Linked DNA regions of Homo sapiens. The protein of the gene in region 5 purifies or fractionates together with the protein of the main gene of each other region. This does not show direct contact. Each region holds a gene or a part of one and is shown on either strand. Other genes may lie near its edges.

Evidence for each region.
Region 1: the proteins of NUP85 (region 5) and AHCTF1 purify together in Homo sapiens (pull-down; one study listed by IntAct). This does not show direct contact.
Region 2: the proteins of NUP85 (region 5) and RABL6 fractionate together in Homo sapiens (co-fractionation; one large-scale study listed by BioGRID). This does not show direct contact.
Region 3: the proteins of NUP85 (region 5) and RIC3 purify together in Homo sapiens (co-immunoprecipitation; one large-scale study listed by IntAct). This does not show direct contact.
Region 4: the proteins of NUP85 (region 5) and SIGLECL1 purify together in Homo sapiens (co-immunoprecipitation; one large-scale study listed by IntAct). This does not show direct contact.

What each region holds. Positions count from the first base shown.
Region 1 is NC_000001.11:246,925,173-246,928,948, forward strand, and holds part of AHCTF1 (protein ELYS), read right to left. Parts: intron 1-3,776. UniProt on the Homo sapiens protein: Required for the assembly of a functional nuclear pore complex (NPC) on the surface of chromosomes as nuclei form at the end of mitosis. May initiate NPC assembly by binding to chromatin and recruiting the Nup107-160 subcomplex of the NPC.
Region 2 is NC_000009.12:136,831,862-136,835,637, reverse strand, and holds part of RABL6 (rab-like protein 6), read right to left. Parts: intron 3,377-3,776; coding exon of another isoform or gene 3,374-3,376; coding exon 3,268-3,373; intron 1,919-3,267; coding exon of another isoform or gene 1,679-1,918; exon of another isoform or gene 1,219-1,678; intron 1-1,218. UniProt on the Homo sapiens protein: May enhance cellular proliferation. May reduce growth inhibitory activity of CDKN2A.
Region 3 is NC_000011.10:8,158,774-8,162,549, forward strand, and holds part of RIC3 (protein RIC-3 isoform a precursor), read right to left. Parts: intron 1-3,776. UniProt on the Homo sapiens protein: Molecular chaperone which facilitates proper subunit assembly and surface trafficking of alpha-7 (CHRNA7) and alpha-8 (CHRNA8) nicotinic acetylcholine receptors.
Region 4 is NC_000019.10:51,249,777-51,254,121, reverse strand, and holds the start of SIGLECL1 (SIGLEC family-like protein 1), read right to left. Parts: upstream 3,043-4,345; 5' UTR 2,577-3,042; intron 1-2,576.
Region 5 is NC_000017.11:75,218,942-75,222,717, reverse strand, and holds part of NUP85 (nuclear pore complex protein Nup85), read right to left. Parts: intron 1-3,776. UniProt on the Homo sapiens protein: Essential component of the nuclear pore complex (NPC) that seems to be required for NPC assembly and maintenance. As part of the NPC Nup107-160 subcomplex plays a role in RNA export and in tethering NUP96/Nup98 and NUP153 to the nucleus.

The DNA.
Region 1 (3,776 bases), on a different chromosome or scaffold from region 5:
TCAGAATTCCATGCAGTAGCTTTTTACAAAGTGTATTCAGAAGAGTGCTAATGGATAATGAGCAAAAAAGTTCCATGATCCCTATACTTCAATCAAAATCATCTCAATACAATTTTGGAAAGATTTTCACAAAATCCAAAGTCCAAAGGATAACACACAAAAAGCATTTTTTGGAAAATGAAATATAGTAAATGTTCTATTTCTTAGGCTGGGTGAGTTTTGTTATGTTGTTTGAATGCAAAACAAAGATGATATAGAAGTACTAGCTCTAAGAGAATAAAGCCACAGTATTTAAACTGTGGCCAGACATGATGGCTTATGCCTGTACACCCAGCACTCTGGGAAGCTCAGGCGGAAGGATCTCTTAAGACCAGGAGTTGTAGGTTGCAGTAAGCTATGATCAGGCCACTGCACTCCAGCCTGGGCAAGATCCTGTTTCTAAAAATATAAAAAATAAACCTAATGTGGTTTGTATAACTGTCCCCTCCCAATCTCATACTGAAATGTGATCCCCAGTGTTGGAGGTGGGGCCTGGTAGGAGGTGTCTGGGTCATGGGAGAGGACCCCTCATGAATGGGTTGGTGTCCTCTCCACAGTAATGAATTCACATGAGATCTGGCTGTTTAAAGCCAGGCATGGTGGCTCCCAGCACTTTGGGAGGCTGAGGCAGGCAGACTGACTGAGCCCAGGAATTTGACACCAGCCTGGGCCACATGGCGAAATCTCATCTCTACGAAAAATAATTAGCCAGGTGTGGTGGCGCCTGCCTGTAGTCCCAGCTACTGGGATTGCTTGAGCCTGGGAGGTCAAGGTTGCAGTGAGCCATAACTGCACCAATGAATTCTAGCCTAGGCGACAGTGAGACCCTGTCTTTAAAAAAAAAAAAAAAAAAAAGGCCTGGTACCTCCTCACTCCCCACTCTCATCATGTGAGTATCCTGCTCTCCCTTTGCCTTCTGACATGATTGGAAGCTTCCTGACACCCTCACCAGAAGGTAGGCAGCTGCTGGTGTCATGCCTGCACAGCCTGCAGAACCATGAGGCAAAATAAACCTCTTTTCTTCATAAATTATCCAGTTTCACATATTCCTTTATAGCAACACAGGCTAACGTATTTCTAATTCAAACTTTGAATCCAGGTTCTAGCACTTAATAATACATGTAACATTGTGCTTTACTATATTCTGTCTTCCTCCCTTTCATATCCAAGCTTCTAGAAAAGAGGAGTACTTATTTCTCCAGACTTCATCATGGTGCCTAGCACAAAGGAGTTCAAAAAAATGTTTAATAAAGTTTTTCAAATTTAACAGCCTTTGAATCTATAGGGCAAAATTGGTTTTAAGACTTTTCCAATTTAAGCACACTACAGAGAACATCGAAACACTCTATTATTAGAAATAGGGGCCAGGCGCGGTGGCTCACACCTGTCATCCCAGCACTTCGGAAAGCTGAGGTGGGTGGATCACCTGAGGTCAGGAGTTCAAGACCAGCCTCACTAACAGGGTGAAATCCCGTCTCTACTAAATACAGAAAACTAACCAGGTGTGGTGGCGCATGCCTATAATCCCAGCTACTTTGGGAGGCTGAGGCAGGAGAATCACTTGAACCCGGGAGGCGGAGATTGCAGTCAGCCGACACTGCACCATTGCACTCCAGCCTGGGCAACAAGAGCGAAACCCCGTTTCAAAACAAACAAGTCTCAAAACAAACAAAAGTGTATGGCCGGGCCGCGGTGGCACACGCCTGTAATCCCAGCACTTTGGGAGGCTAAGGCGGGCGGATCACGAGGTCAGGAGATCGAGACCATCCTGGCTAACAAGGTGAAATCCCGTCTCTACTAAAAATACAGAAACAAAATTAGCAGGGCGTGGTGACGGGAACCTGTAGTCCCAGGTACCCGGGAGGCTGAGGAGGGAGAATGGCGTGAACCCGGGAGGCGGAGCTTGCAGTGAGCCAAGATCGTGCCACTGCACTCCAGCCTGGGCGACAGAGCGAGACTCTGTCTCAAAAAAAAAAAAAGAAAGAAATAGGCCAGGCACTGTGGCTCACACCTGTCATCTCAGCACTTTGGGAGGCCAAGGCGGGAGAATGGCTGAGGTCAGGAGTTGGTTAGAGACCAGTCTGGCCAACATGGTGAAACCCCGTCTCTACTAAAAACAAGAAATGTAGCAGCCAGCCACGGCTGCATACGCTTGTCATCCCGACTACTTGGGAAGCTGAGGCATGGGAATCGCTTGAACCGGGGAGGTGGAGGTAGCTGTGAGCTGAGATGGTGCCACTACACTCCAGCCTCAGCAACACAGCCTGACTGTCTCAAAAAGAAAAACTATATTATTAGAAAGAATATCTCATATAAAGGTATATGAAAACACAAACACACATGAAACACCTACGTTCAGTACTGTACAAAATTAAACAGAATCCCAGCCTTTTATGACATGCCAGCACTGGCAACCTATAAAAAGTAATTTACTAAGTTTCAATTCCTTTCCAAAGGCTAGATAGGCAGAGCAGGAACGTTCTACTGGCTTTGAATGAAGATACTGTTCATGGCCGGGCGCGGTAGCTCAAGCCTGTAATCCCAGTACTTTGGGAGGCCGAGGCTGGCGGATCACAAGGTCAAGAGACCCAGACCATCCTGGCCAACATGGTGAAACCCTGTCTCTACTAAAAATACAAAAATTAGCTGGGCGCGGTAGCGCGCTGTAGTCCCAGCTACTTGGGAGGCTGAGGCAGGAGAATCGCTTGAACCTGGGAGGCAGAGGTTGCAATAAGCCAAGATCACGCCACTGCACTCCAGCCTGGCGACAGAGCAAGACTCCGCCACCAAAAAATTAATTAATTAATTAAATTAAATACTGTTCGGCCGGGTGCGGTGGCTCACGCCTGTAATCCCAAGGCAGGTGGATCACGAGGTCAGGAGATCGAGACCATCCTGGCTAACACGGTGAAACCCCATCTCTACTAAAAATACAAAAAAAATTAGCCGGGCGTGGTGGTGGGCACCTGTAGTCCCAGCTACTGGGGAGGCTGAGGCAGGAGAATGGCATGAACCCGGGAGGCGGACCTGGCAGTGAGCCGACATCGCGCCACTGCACTGTAGCCTGGGCGACAGAGCGAGACTCCGTCTCAAAAAAAAAAAAAAAAAAAAATTACTTCTGCTTGCCTGTCTTCTCCACTACACTATGAATTCCTAAAAGGCAAAAATCACCAAATCTTATTCCTGGGCATTCGACAAGGTCACAGTGCCTTTGGACTAACAGGTCCTAAATGTAATAAATTAGGATAACAGGATACTGTATAGCAGGATATTATTAGGATACTAGCAGAGACAAGAAATAGGCATGTTAAACAATAAAATCAATTTTTTAAAACTCAAGATTGGGCCCAATTATTTTTAAGTATACACTGGTTCAGTATTAAACAAAACAAAATTCTTAAAATTACTAGGCCAGATACTAAAAACAGAATACTATAAATCAGTTTTCTGTGTGAAATACACAAATTCCTGCAGTAACTGAATTCCACCACAGAAAATGGAACTCTAATCTAGTTCAACAATTATATTGCAACATGTACCAAGCAAACATTTCTATAAACCACTTTGTATGCAATGGTACTTTTTTTCTTTTTGACTAATAAAAAGACGAATTGTCATTTAAATGTAAACTACCAGTGGACCCAGAAACTTCAAGCCTTTCAGAAATTTCTTACCAACTTAATTCAAACATTTTAAAATCACAAACTACTTTTAAAACACCGTGTTAGTAAAGGAAT
Region 2 (3,776 bases), on a different chromosome or scaffold from region 5:
CAGGAGATGCTGCAGGGCTGGCTGCTCAGCAACTCATGGAGCTCTGCGCTGGGCCCCACTTGAACCACAGAAGCCCAGAGGATTCCTCTGCGGTGGCCGGCACGACACCTACACACTGCCAGCATGGCTTGGGGGACAGCTGTCAGTCACAGGCATAAACCTCAACAGCAAGCACCCCCACCCACACACGCACCTCTAAGAGTGAAGAAGCCGCACCTTCACCTGGGAAACAAAGCCCCTCTGCTCCCCGCCACGCACACCTCCTCTGGTGGCAGGACACATCCCCGGTGCACGCGTCGCCACCGTCCCACACCCACAAGCAGCTGGCTCTGGAGCAAACCACTGCCCTCCTGGCCTGGAACCCCAGGCTGGTCTGATGAGCTGCGGGTCCCTGTGGCTGCTCACTTTAGATTCAAATGAAATACAAACGCCGGAGCCTCACGAACTCCTGACCTCAGGTGATCCAGCTGCCTCAGCATCCAAAGTGCGAGGATGACAGTCGGGAGCCACCGTGCCCGGCCCCTTCTCTTTTTTTAAATAGAGATGGGGTCTCGCTATGTTGCCCAGACTGGTCTCTAATTCCTGGACTCAAGTGATCCTCCCAGCTTGGCCTCTGCTGAAATTACAGGCCTGAGCTACTTGCCTGGCCTCTCCTTTTTTTTTTTTTGAATCATCTTTTTCAGAGATTTTTTTTTTTTTTTTTTTTTTAGAACAGGGTCATGCTATATTATATTGCCCAGGCAGAAGATCTGGAACTCCTGGGCTCGAGCTGTCCTCCCACCTCTGCCTCCCTAACAGCTGGGATTATAGGCGTGAGCCACTGCGCCCAGCCTGGAGAGGTTTTTAAAATAAAAATGTGAGGCTGGGCGTGGTGGCTCACACCTGTAATCCCAGCACTTTGGGGGGGCCAAGGCGGGCAGATCACGAGGTCAAGAGATCGAGACCGTCCTGGCCAATATGGCAAAACCCCGTCCCTACTAAAAATACAAAAATTAGCCAGGCGTGGTGGCAGGCGCCTGTAATCCCAGCTACTTGGGAGGCTTAGGCAGGAGAATCGCTTGAACCCAGGAGGCAGAGGTTACAGTGAGGCAAGATTGCACCACCGTACTCCAGCCTGGACAGAGTGAGACTCCGTCTCCAAAAAAAAGAGTGTATTAAAGTCATTAAGGTCCCCAGGCTATAACAACAACAAAAAAATGTGATTTACAAAGAGAAATCTACAGACTTGTCAACCAAATGTAATGTGTGAACTCTGGATCCTACTCTGAATACTGACCAAATATCTGACGACTGGAAGAACTCTTTGGGAATTTTATTTTTTCAATTTGTTATTGTGGCTTATTTCTCCAAGAAAAACCTTCTGTGAGTTTAACATGCGGTATTACATTAGGTACTACGGTCAGGTTAAAAAAACAACTGATTTTTTTAGAGATGTGTTTGAAATATTTTTAGGTGACATAAAGAAGGCCTGAAATTTGCTTCCAGGCAATCCAGGGGCAAGACAAAGAGGAAACAGGGGTCCCGCTGCTGAGACAGGCGAGGACATCAGATCTGCTTGAACACATCCATAGCAAAAGGATAGTCACACACAGCTCAGCCCTACGCTTCCAGCTCAAGACTCTGTCCAGGGTCCCGTTCTCTCCCTGGGAGGCTTTGGAAGGGTTTGGAGGGCAAACCATTAGGGAATGGAGCAGCTGAGCAGTGGGGAGCTCTCTAAGGAGTAATCAACCCAGTGATGAGGGGACGGCTCTGCAGGAAGGAGGGGCCTCCCCAGCAGTGCCGGCACAGGACAAGTCTGACTGCCGCCTTCCTTCCAACCCAAACGTCCCCAGCAGCAGTCCCAGCCTGCAGGCATCCTCACTTCTTCTGACACCAGGACGACAGCACAGCCCCTTTCCTGGGCAAGCCTGACATCCTTCTGGAGAAAGACCAAGGCTGCTGCAGCTGCAGCTGGGCCCCAGGTCCCCCAGACCCAGTCGGGGCAGCCCAGGGCGAGGAGGTTCAGGTCCCCCAGACCCAGCTGGGGCAGCCCAGGGCGAGGAGGTTCAGGTCCCCAGACCCAGCTGGGGCAGCCCAGGGTGAGGAGATTCAGGTCCCCCAGACCCAGTCGGGGCAGCCCAGGGCGAGGAGGTTCAGGTCCCCCAGACCCAGGCGGGGCAGCCCAGGGCGAGGAGGTACAGGTCCCCCAGACCCAGCTGGGGCAGCCCAGGGCGAGGAGGTTCAGGTCCCCCAGACCCAGGCGGGGCAGCCCAGGCAAGGAGGTTCAGGTCCCCCAGACCCAGGCGGGGCAGCCCAGGGCGAGGAGGTTCAGGTCCCCCAGATCCAGCTGGGGCAGCCCAGGGCGAGGAGGTTCAGGTCCCCCAGACCCAGCTGGGGCAGCCCAGGGCGAGGAGGTTCAGGTCCCCCAGACCCAGCTGGGGCAGCCCAGGGCGAGGAGGTTCAGGTCCCCAGACCCAGGTGGGGCAGCCCAGGGCGAGGAGGTTCAGGTCCCCAGACCCAGGCGGGGCAGCCCAGGGCGAGGAGGTTCAGGTCCCCAGACCCAGGCGGGGCAGCCCAGGGCGAGGAGGTTCAGGTCCCCAGACCCAGCTGGGGCAGCCCAGGGCGAGGAGGTTCAGGTCCCCCAGACCCAGTCAGGGCAGCCCAGGGCGAGGAGGTTCAGGTCCCCCAGACCCAATCAGGGCAGCCCAGGGCGAGGAGGTTCAAGCCTCATCATTTGCTGGGCTACTTTGCAGCCACAGCTGGCCTGGCCCTTGTTTCTACAAAGGAAAGTGAGTTTAGTCCGTAGGCCAAAGTTGGTTCCTTGGTTTTGACACAAGCACCAGGGAAATGTGAGATGTGAACAGCGAGTACCTCGGTGACTCACGCCTGGCATCCCAGCACTTTGGGAGACAGGTGGGAGGATTGCCTGAGCCCCGGAGTTTGAGGCCGCAGTGAGCCATGATTGCGCCACTGCACTCCAGCCTGGGCCACACAGCAAGACCTTATCTCAACAAACAAAAACAACCAAAAACACTGGGGGAAACTGAGCAAGGGGTCCCCGCAGAGGTGGAGGGGCTCCTGGGACTGGGTCTAGCCCTCAGGACCCTGTACCCTCTGCCACCCAGAGCAGGCAGGTGCAGTAGAACGCTGGGCCCTTGCCAGCAGCCAATCTCCGAGCAGGTCCACAGCTTTCTCAGGGGTTAGGAGGGAGACCCGTTGCTACACAGGAGACACCTGGAAGGAGGTGAGAGACCAGCAGCCACTCCACCCCACGTGGTGAGTGCTTACCTGAAGCTGCAAAAATGGGATATTGAAGAACTTATGAAGGTACTTTAGGCCGAAGCTGTTCTTCATGGAAGACTCAGCATAGCGGAAGTAGGAGGAACCTGGAGGTCTGCTTTCAGAAAGGAAAAAAGATGCAAGAGAAAGACCCTTGCCCTGGTGCCAAGGATCACCCCTGGGCCCACAGCTGTGGGTCCGCACTGCCCTCCCTCCTCCTGCAGGCTCCTGAGGCCACAGGACCCTGCTGAGCCCTGCTAAGCAGCTAAGCCGAGTGCCCTTCTGCAGGTGACCCCACAGTGCCAGCACTTCACCCTGGCACACAGTTCCCCAGCACACAGTTCCCGGCCCTGCCATCGGGGAGACCCAGGCTTCAGTGAGCCCCACTCAGCGGCGAGACCCACATCCGCCGGGCCCCATGCTAACGTTAACCCCTCCCTGGGCCTCTGCCTCAGCACCCTCCCCCGCACACCGGAGCACCGGGCAGGGTCCCTCGGGAGCAGGGCCACCGCACCCAC
Region 3 (3,776 bases), on a different chromosome or scaffold from region 5:
CCCAGGCTGCATTTCAGTGGCACGATCTCAGCTCACTGCAACCTCCGCCTCCTGGGTTCAAGCAATTCTCTGCCTCAGCCTCCCGAATAGCTGGGATTACAGGCATCTGCCACCATGCCCAGAGAATTTTTGTATTTTTAGTAGAGACGGCGTTTCACCATGTTGGCCAGGCTGGTCTTGAAATCCTGACCTTGTGATCCACCCGCCTTGGCCTCCCAAAGTGCTGGGATTACAGGCGTGAGCCACCGCGCTCGGCCACAGAGCCTCCTTTCTAAGTAGGAAAAGAGACAATAAACAAGATAATGATAAATACTAAGGAGAAAAAATAAGACAGGGAGAAGGGGTAGGACCGTGTTGGAAGTTAAGATTTTAGCTGGAATGGCCAGAGAAGGCATCAGGAAATGCAGTTTGAGAGAAAACATGAAGACGAAGGGAAAGGCACATGGATATCCAAAAGAAGAGCATTTCAAACAAGGGAAACAGCAAATGCAAAGGCACTGAAGTGGGAACATGCTTGGCATATTCAAGGAACAGTGAGGAGGAAGCCAGTGTGGCCACAACAAAGTGAGACAGATAGAAAAGTAGAAGCAAATGGGGAAGAGAATTACATAGGGCCTTTTGGGTCATGTATAGACTATCTTTTCATCTAAGCCAGGAAGCCACTGTAGAGTTTTGAGGAGGGGAGAGATGTGAGTTGACTTAAGCTTCAACATAATACTATCTGGCAGCTATATTGAGAATAGACTGAAGTGGGGAAGGAGGAAGGAGGCAAACCAGGGTGACAGAGTAAGATGGAATAGAGCAACCAAATAACCAACTGGTTGAATGACCCTAAACAAAACGTTTCCATGAATACAGTGGTGGGACTCTAAAAGCAGTTTTAAATGACTAAGACATTTAAAAAAATAATTTGACCTATCAAGAAAACATGCTGAGGCTGGGCATGGTGGCTCATGTCTGTAACTCCAGCACTCTGGGAGGCCAAGGCAGGCAGATCATCTGAGGTCAAGGGTTCGATACCAGCCTGGCCAACATGGTGAAACTCCGTCTCTACTAAAAATACAAAAAAAATTAGCCAGGCGTGGTGGTGGATGCCTGTAATCCCAGCTTCTCAGGAGGATGAGGCAGGACAATTGCTTGAACTTGGGAGGCAGAGGTTGCAGTGAACTCAGATCCTGCCACTACACTCCAGCCTGAGAAAAAACAAACAAAAAGAGAAAACATGCTGATCATAATCAAAGGTAAAATTGTAAAAAAAGAAAGAAAAAAAGAAAAATTATAACATGGTGGGAAAAATTTGAACACCAACTAGATATTTAATGACATCAAGGAAGTATTGACTTTTTAGGTGTGACAATGGTATTGTGGCTACATTTTAATAAGAATCTGTTTTTAGAGATGCATACTGAAGCATTTAAGGATGAAAAATGATCCAATGTCTAGGATTTGCTTCAAAATAATCCAGTGAATGGGGGGAAAAGTGGGTGGGGATACCCATGACACAAGACTGACCATGTATTGATGGCTGCTGAAGCAGGATGATATGGATTCATTTTACTACTCTCTCAACTTTTGCTTATGTTTGAAAATGTCTTTAACAAAAAGTTTTTTAAAAATCAAGAATGGCACACAGCTAAGAAATGGTAAGCAGATACATTGAATGAAACATTGAATGCTCTGAAAAAATTTCAAGAGCTAGAATTCTTGGCCAAATTTAAACAAATAAAATGCAACAAGGAAAACTACAAATTCCTACATTTCATTCCGAAACATCAAGTGAACAGTAGAAAATGAACAAAACCTAGATGAGCAGCTCCTATTAAAAAGAAGAAAAAAAGGCTCAGAATTCTAATATACAGCAAAGTCAGCAAGGAAAATGCTAAAAACTAGAGCAATCCCCAGAAAGCATTAAGTATAGAAGAAGAAGAGTGCAGGGAAACAACAGATTGCTCTTTCATGAACTGTCTTAGATATGCTGTTATTTGCAGTTCTAAGAGCCTCTTCTGAGAGGGCTGTGTTCAAACACTTGCACCTAGGTCATACCAGGAACGGATGAGGGAGCTAGGGATGTTAACACAGGAAAGAAGACTGAAGAAAGGGACATAATACTACTTTTCCAATTCCTGGATTAATCATCTTACACCTGTAAACCAAAAAGTATCTGGGACAGGCCTCAATCAATTTAGAAGTTTATTTTGCCAACGTTAAGGACACGCCCAGGAGAGAGGTCTGTGCCTTTCTCCAAAGATGATTTTGAGGGCTTCAATATTTCAAGGGGAAAAGTGAGCTGGAGGGGAAAGAAGGGTATGGTAATCTATATGTTGCAAGAGAAAAGGAGCAGGTAGAGGAATAGTCAATTATGTATTCATCTGGTGCTCAGTAAATCGGCACTTCACGTAAGATACGGTGAACATAGAGTAGCTACCTGTAGAGATATTTAATTTTTTATCTGTAGCTACCTGCTTAGGAACAAAAGGAAAGGCAGTTTCTTGCACGACTCAGCTTTCAGCTTAATTTTTTCCTTTTGGCATAGTGAACTGGGGTCCCAAGTTTTTATTTTCTTTTCACACACCTTTAATCTACTTTTCCTCCATTCCTATTTTGGCAAAGGAAATCAACATCTATCCCTTCACCTAAACCTGAGAATAATCCAGATGTCTCCCTCTCCCTCACTTTCCCATTCTATTTTAAAATGTCTCTTAAAATTATTCTCTTCCCTCCAATCTATCCATTGATAACCTCTCTTGCTCTAATATCCATATTTTCCTTTGGGAACTCCTCTCAACTCCAGAGTGGATTCATCAGTATATTCTTTCTACCCACAGCACCACAAGTTAACTTAATTCAAGCCATTAACGTGAACGGATATGTTTGCTGGAACTTCTGGGAAAGAATCTTGGGAGTGAGGCTGGAAGGTGAGAGTGATGGAGGACTTAAAAGAAAAGAGGCCTGGAGCTGTGCCCAGCAAAGTGCTGTAATCCCAGCACGTTAGGAGGCTGAGGTGGGACAATGACTTGAGGCCAGGAGTTCCAGGCCAGCTCTACACACACACGTATATAAATGAGACACTCCCACTTTCTCCGGGCAATGGAATGTGAGGAGGTAATGTCCGAAACTGTTGCTATAAATGAGACACTCACTTTCTCCGGGCAATGGAATGTGAGGAGGTAATGTCCGAAACTGTTGCTATAAATGAGACACTCACTTTCTCCGGGCAATGGAATGTGAGGAGGTAATGTCCGAAACTGTTGCTATAAATGAGACACTCACTTTCTCCGGGCAATGGAATGTGAGGAGGTAATGTCCGAAACTGTTGCAACCATTGCTACCACCCTGAGAGGGCAGCCAGAGCACAGAACCAACTTGAGAACGAACCCAGAGTGAAAAGGACACAGAAAATAAGAGCTAGAGCCCCAGTGTGACAACTGTGAGTCTCTGGTTCAAACCATACTGCAAGACATTTCTAACACAGGGTCTTTTCATTTACACAAGTCAATAAATTCCCTGTCTTAGTCAAGCTGACTTTTCTGTCACTTGTCACAAGCACCCTAACTGGTGAACCCAATGACAATGACTTGGTGATGCTCATGATGTCTCAACTGGATGACTACAACAATCTTCTCCCTGAAGAAATCCTCACAACGCAGTGTCTACACTGCTGCCAGGGTGTCCTTTCTAAAACCAGGTTAAATGTTTCTCTTCTCCTTACACACTCAATGATGCCTCATCTGCCTTTAGAATAAAACCCAATCTCCTTAAGAATGACAGAAAAAAAC
Region 4 (4,345 bases), on a different chromosome or scaffold from region 5:
GTTTTGAACTCCTGGGCTTAAGCAATTCTCCCGCCTCAGCCTCCCAAAGTGCTAGGATTACAGGCATGAGCCACTGTGCCCTGCTGTGAATCAATTGGGAATGACTGAATCATGCCATGACTGTTAACTACTTTTTTGGTTAACATCTAATGAGAAACTATGGTTGCCATTTACAACTCTAGAGACGTAGAAATTTTATCTTTTATCTTAGTCTCAACAACTCTGTGAGGTACATCTCATTATCAACACTTCCAAAAGGAAGGCAGAGATCCACAAAAGTACTATGACTGGCCCCAAGACATGCAGCCGTTACGTTCATAGATTTCAGACTCAACCTTTGACTACAACTGTGGTGTCTTTTTCATGATTCTATTTTGCCTTAAAAACTGCTGTATAAGCATGGTGAAGTTCATTCTCCTCTCCAAATTCACTTCCTCATGAATAAAATATAAGAATAAATCAGCTAGCCCTGATGTGACACACAGTATACTTAGATTTTTCCTGGAAGTGGACCAGAAGTCAGAAGACCTAATCTTTGTCGCTACTTCCTGGGTGATTCTGGGTAAGTCACTTCCCTCACTGTCAGCCTGCTTCAGAGACTAAAAACAATCATAAATGAATTTTGTTTGGCCTACAAATGCTTACTTTTTAAAACTAACTTTTAAAATGGGATAACATTTAATAATCAGAGCACTTCACAAAAAATTCAAACAACCAGCTTCTCTCTCTCTCTTTTTTTTAAATTTTAAATTCAAGTCAAACTGCCTAGATATGAAGGTTAGCTGTTTTATAGTGTGCAAGTAGCTTCACCTCTCTCTAGGCCTACTTGCTCATTTTAAAAACATGGATAATAATAGCACCCATCTTAGAGTTGTTGTTAAGATTAAATGAGTCAGTAGAACAGAACCTCACATTTGGTAAGCAATCAAAAAATGTTAGTTACTATGTATTAGGTTCCCTGCTTAGCTCCTATCAGCATTTAACTTGGAACCACTTTTTTTTTGTTTTTTTTTAACACAGGGTCTGGAGTGCAGTGGCATGAACATGGCTCACTGCAGCCTCGACTTTCCAGGCTCAAGTGATCCTCCCACCTCAGCCTCCAGAGTAGCTGGGACTATAAGCACAAGCCACCAGGTCCAGCTAATGAAAAAATTTTTTTTGTAGAGACAGAGTCTCACTATGTTACCCAGGCTGGTCTCGAACTCCTGGGCTCAAGCAGTCTTCTCACCTCAGCCTCCCAAAGTGCTGGGATTGCAGCCGTGAACCAACACACTCAGCCTGGGACCACTCTTGACCACCCCTAATCCCTTCCCAGAGTTCTGGAACCAGCCCTGTCCTTTCCTATTCCATATTTCGGCATGTTTTAACAGACCTCTCTGAGTGGTCTGTGCTCCCAACCCTTAGCCTCCAGACTGATTGCCCTTTTTCCTTCTCACATAAAAAAGATATCGCCCAAGTTTCCAGGTCGTTAAATGCCTCTCTCATTCACGCCACATATCCACTTTCTTTTTGCATTGTCAATTTTTTTTTCCTTCCCCTTTCTTCTGTTTAAAAGCCCATGTTAGATGGTCGGAATGAGCCTTGTCTAGGTCCTGGGCCAGGATTTGCCAGTAAAGCACTGAATAACTGTGGTCAAGTATTTTCCCTCTTCTTATTTCCTCATGTGTAACATGAGTGGGTTTTACTGCTGGAGATGTAATGATCCATTTAAGTACAAAATTCTGATTTCTTCTTTCTTCTCTCCATCAGTTTTAGAGCATACATGTGATGACTCGTCATGCACCCATTATATTTTCTTTTTCTTTTCTTTTCTTTTTTTTTTTTTGAGACAGAGTCTCGCTGTGTTGCCCAGGCTGGAGTGCAGTGGCACGATCTTGGCTCACTGCAACCTCTGCCTACGGGGTTCAAGTGATTCTCCTGCCTCAGCCTCCCGAGTAGCTGGGACTACAGGCACGGGCCACGATGCCCATCTAATTTTTGTATTTTTGGAAGAGACGGGGTTTCACCATGTTGGCCAGGCTGGTCTTGAACTCCTGACCTCAAGTGATCCCCGGCCTCAGCCTCCCAAAGTGCTGGGATTACAGACGTGAGCCACTGCGCCCAGCCTATTTTCCTTGACCACCATGTCTCTCAATTTTCCTTCACCATCATGTCTCTCAATTTTCCTTCTGTCTCTTGTTCCAAAGGGCTCAGGATATTCTCTGTTCTCAGCACACTTCCATCTGTGTATTTCCTTAGCAGGGTGTGAGTGATGCAAAGGTGTTCGGCTTTCTAAGGGAAGGGCTGACTTACTAATGACTGACCTATTTATGGTGAGGAAAACGATTTTCTAGGGAAAGCCAGGATAACTAACAATGAAACTGATAGACACACATGGGATAACTGTGTGAGTAATGACTGGGTGCCTTGCAGGGGTGTAACTTACCAAGAGACCGACTTAGCGGGAGCCTAACTAACCAATGAACAGGGCAGGTTCTGAAGGGAGTGGATTTTCTCATGAACTGATTTTCAAAGGGACTAACCGTTGACTCATAAGGGCACTGACCTGATTGTGAACCCACGGGCCGCTTGCTTACCTTCTTGGTAGATGGATGTCGCCCCAGCTGCCCTCTGGCTGACCAGGTGACTGACGTGGTGGAGGCTGAGGAACGCTGGCTCCTGGCGAACTCCCTGACTATGCTTAATCTCACCGCCTGACTGTTCAGATTTAGCCTCTGTCTGACCAAAGGGCTCTCAGGGGCCTCACTGGCACGAGAGCCGCCCTGGTGGCCTAACCGACCTGCGGCTGCCCCACGGCCCAAGGATCCGCTGACTGACGCTGACTGGAAGCCCAGTTAGTGCAGTTTCAATGAAGGAACCCAACAACCGCCAACAACTGCCAGGGACCCAACAACCGCCAGAACCCAACAACTGCCAGGGACGCCAACAGGCCAGGCACAGCCTTATGCGACTAGGGATCCTCAGTCGGCTGCACAGAGATAGCGGCGTGAGGGGCGTGATAGCCGCTGCAAGACCTGCTAGCTCGCATCCTTAGGTGAGTGCATCCACCCGCAGCCAATCAGCGGCTGCATGGGCTTACTTTACACAGCCAATCAGAGGCTGCATGTGCTTATTTTACAACCAATGAGAGGCTGCATGGGCTTATGTTGCAGCCAATCAGAGGCTGCATGGGCTTATTTTATAGCCAATCAGAGGCTGCATGAGCTTTTTCTACAGCCAATCAATGAAGCAGAAGCATTGTGCCCACAGGCGTGTGCCCCTGGGAGCTGATGCACGGCTGCCAGAGTCAATCAGGAACTGCAACTGCAACTCCCTCCTCCAACCTTTGTGCCCAATTGGATCTTGAGGGCTTGAGCCAATCCGCAGCTGGGGGCGGTGCCAGGGTAGTTTGTGGGCCAATTTTCTTCCCAGCAAGGCCTTTCCAGCCCGTGCTGATGAAACCACACTCCTCTCCAACCCTGAGGACTCCGTTCCTCTTGTTTAACCCTGTTTATTTTTTCTCACACTTTATCCGTCACGCACTTTCTTACCCATTACACTTTCAAAATGACAGAGGCATTTGAGCCAGAGCAACTCCGTCTTGAATAGGAGCTGGGTAAAATGAGGCTGAGACCTGCTGGGCTGCATTCCCAGAGGGCTAAGGCATTCTAAGTTACAGGATGATATAGGCGGTCAGCACAAGATACAGGTCATAAAGACCTTGCTGATAAAACAGGTTGCAGTAAAGAAACCAGCCAAGGCTGGGCTCGGTGACTCACGCCTGTAATCCCAGCACTTTGGGAGGCTGAGGCGGGCGGATTACCTGAGGTCAGGAGTTTGAGACCAGCCTGCCAACATGGCGAAACCCTGTCTACTAAAAATACAAAAATTAGCTGGGCGTGGTGGCAGGCACCTGTAACCCCAGCTACTTGGGAGGTTGAGGCAGGAGAATCGCTTGAATCCGCGAGGTGGAAGTTGCAGTGAGCCGAGATTGCACCACTGCACTCCAGCCTGGGCAACAGAGTGAGACTCTGACTCAAAAGGAAAAAAAAAAAAAAGAAGCCAGCCAAATCCCACCAAAACCAAGATGACAATGAGAGTGACCTCTGGTAATCCTCACTGCTACACTCCTACCAGCACCATGACGGTTCACAAATGCCATGGCAACGTCAGGAAGTTACACTATATGGTCTAAAAAGGGGAGGCATGAATAATTCACCCTTTCTTTAGCATGTCATCAAGAAATAACCATAAAAATGGGCAACCAGCAGCCCTCGGGGCTGCTCTATGAAGTAATCATTCTTTTATTCTTTTACTTTCTTAATAAACTTGCTTCCACGTTACTCTATGGAATAGCCCTGAATTC
Region 5 (3,776 bases):
GTAAGTTGTCTCCAAACAGATACACACATAAAACAAGTGATCGGTTATATATTGATTGGTTGAACAAAATATGACCAGAGGCTTGCAGGAACCTAACCCTGTATTTCCCCTAGGAGCAATGGTTCAATATTCACTAATTCAGTATTCAAGGCACTGCACTCCAGCCTGGGCAACAAGAGCAAAACTCTATCTCAAAAAAAAAAAAAAAAAAAAAAAAAAAAATCACAAATATATAAACATATACATACTGATAACTCCCAACTTTTCCTCTCTAGCCCAAACTTCCTTGTCTGAATTCCAGCTTTGTATATCCAAGTGCCTAGTCAACATCTCCACTTAGATCTTGAATAGGCATCTTAAAACGTAACATGTCGGACAGGCATGGTGCCTCACGCCTGTAATCCCAACACTTTGGGAAGCCAAGGAGGGTGGATTGCTTGGGCCCAGGAGTTTGAGACCAGCCTGGACAACATGGCAAAACCCCGTCTCCACTACAAATACAAAAATTAGTTGGACATGGTGGCACGCCTTTGTAGTCCTGGCTACTTGGGAGGCTTAGGAGGGGAGGATCACCTGAGCTTAGGCGGTCAAGGCTGCAGTGAGCTGTAATCTGACCACTGCACTCCAACATGGGCAACAGAGACTTTGTCTCAAAACAAACAAACAAACAAACAAAACAAAACACACACACACACGAGAGAAACATGTCTAAAATTAAATACCAGTTTGCCTCCAATTCACCAACCTTATCCTCCCACATTCTTCTATTTCTTGCATGCCCACATCAAATCAATCCATCAGCAAACCCCATCAACTCTCTTCAAACATATCTAGCCTACACCACCACCATCTTTTACCTGGCTTAGTACAGCAGAATCCAGACTGGCCTGTTTCCATCCTTGCTGTAGTCTCAACATGGCAGCCAGGACAGCCTTTGGGAACCTAAGTAAGATCTCAGGCTTCCTCTGCTCAGCTCTCCAATGCCCCCTCACCCCATATGGCTTAGAAGTAAAAGACTAGCTTTTACTGTGCATCAACCGTGTCAACTACTTCACCCACATTTATGTCCTTTAACTAATTTAATGATCACAACAGCCCCATGGGACAGGTATTATTATCTCCACTGGACAGATGAGGACCCTTAAGGCCGTTAAGTAGCTCACTCAAGATCTCACACCTAGTGACCGGGCACAGTGGCTCACACCTGTAATCCCAATACTTTGGGAGGCCAAGGCAACAGGACTGCTTGAGGCCAGGAGTTCAAAAAATAAAAAAATTTGGCTGGGCATGGTGGCTCAAGCCTGTAATCCCAGCACTTTGGGAGGCTGAGGCAGGCGGATCACTTGAGGTCAGGAGTTCGAGACCAGCCTGGCCAAAACAGCAAAACCCCATCTCTACTAAAAATAAAAAAATGAGCCAGGCAGGATGGCGAGAGCCTATAATCCCAGCTGAGATCGCCCCACTGCACTCTGGCCTGGGCAACAGAGTGAGACTCTGCCTCAAAAAATAAATAAATAAAAATAAAAAATAATTGGGTTAGCCGGGCGTGGCGGCTCACGCCTGTAAACCCACCACTTTGGGAGGCCAAGGCAGGCAGATCACAAGGTCAGATCGAGACCATCCTGGCTAACATGGTGAAATCCCGTCTCTACTAAACAAAATTAAAAAATTAGCCAGGCGTGGTGGCAGGCGCCCGTGGTCCCAGCTACTCGGGAGGCTGAGGCAGGAGAATGGCATGAACCCGGGAGGCGGAGCTTGCAGCGAGCCGAGATCGTGCCACTGCACTCCAGCCTGGGCAATAGAGCGAGACTCCAGCTAAAAAAAAAAAAAAAAAAAAAATTGGGATGGTGGGATGGAGGGAGGCAGGCAAATCACTTGAGGTCAGGAGTTCAAGACCAGCCTGACCAACATGATGAAACCCCATCTCTACTAAAAATACAAAAAACAAAACAAAACAAAACAAAAACCAGCTGGGCATCATGGCGTATACCTATAATCCCAGCTACTTGGTAGACTGAGACAGAACTGCTTGAACCAGGGAGGCAGAGGTTGCAGTGAACTGAGATAGCGCCACTGCACTCCAGCCTGGGCAACAGAGAAAGACGCCATCTCAAAAAATAAATAAATAAATAAAAACTTTAGCTGGTGGTGGTAACACATGTCTGTGGTCCCAGCTACTTGGGAGGCTAAAGTAGGAGGACCACTGGAGACCTGGAGGCCAAGGCTACAGTGACTGGTGATTGTGCACTGCAGCCTGGGGAACACAGTGAAACTGTATTTAAAAAAAAAAAAAAAGGCCAGGCATGGTGGCTCATGCTGGTAATCCCAGCACTTTGGGAGGCCAAGGTGGGTGAATCACAAGGTCAGGAGTTTGAGACCAGCCTGGCCAATATGGTAAAACCCCATCCCTACTAAAAATACAAAAATTAGCTGGGCATGGTGACGCGCGCCTGTAGTCCCAGCTACTCAGGAGGCTGAGGCAGAAGAATCACTTGAACCCCGGAGGCAGAGGTCGCAGTGAGCTGAGATGGCGCCACTGCACTCCAGCCTAGGTGACAGAGAGAGACTCTGTCTCAAAAAAGGAAAAAAACCCACCTCACAGCTAGTAAAAGGCAGAGCTGGAATGCTAACCCAGGCAGTGTGGCACCACAGACCATGTTGTTAGTCACCCTGCTATGTAGGCTGCAAAAAGCTAAAGTCTCAGTGACAGCCCAGGGGGCTGTCTCAGACCTGGCCTGGTATCGCTCTGTCTTTATCTCCCCAGCTCATCCCTCCCACCTACCCCTACATAGCACAGCCCCTCCTGCCCCACCCTGGCTCTAGAACACAGCATCTACAGGCCCTGCTATCTGGAATGCTTTCTTCAGCCTAGCTCTCCTCACCTCCTTCAGGTCTCACCTCCAATCTCTCATGAGGGAGGCCTTCTTCGATGCCCCTCCAGCACTTGCAGCCTCCCTCCCTTCTTGGCACCTTGGCAGAGCATTTCACTATGTGCCAGGATACATGGTACTAGCCTATGTGTTGCTGTTCTTTCTCCACACACAGGATATAAACTCCATAAAGGCAGGAATCTTTGCCTGTTTTAGTCATGGTGTCTCCTTGGTGCCTTGCAAATAGTAGGGACTCAATAAATACTCAGTGAATGACCAGGAATGGTGGCTCACACTTGCAGTTCCAACACTTTGGGAGGCCAAGGTGGAAGGATTGCTTGAGCCCAGGAGTTCAAGACCAGCCTGGGTAATACAGTGAAACCTCACCTCTACAAAAAATAAAACTAGCCAGGCGTAGTGGTGTGCGCCTGTAGTCCCAGCCACTCAGGAGGCTGAGGTGGGAGGATTGCTTGAGCCCAGGAAATCAAAGGTGCATTGTGCCATGATCGCATCACTGCACTCCCGCCCAGGCCGCAAAGCGAAACCCTGTCTCTAAACGACAACAACAAACCTTAGCGAATCAATCAGAGACTCAAACATTTGGCCCACTACTTCCTGTGAGCCACCGTGCCGGGCCGAATTCCAGGTTTTCTTTTCTTTTCTTTTTTTTTGTCCTCACAATCTGTTCCCAATTTCAGGCTTTATAAGTTTAGTTGACTTTCCATTAGCCCAGTCAACTAGCGATCTCCTCCCTGCCACCTCCCAATTGGGTCAGTCAGCAGAGGTGAATGGAAATACCTAACACATAGAAAATACATCCATATACACATATACGACATGCTGACTTCGAAACTGATGATCCAAAGTAATGTGCAAGCTCATTTACATCCAACCCTGTATGCACCC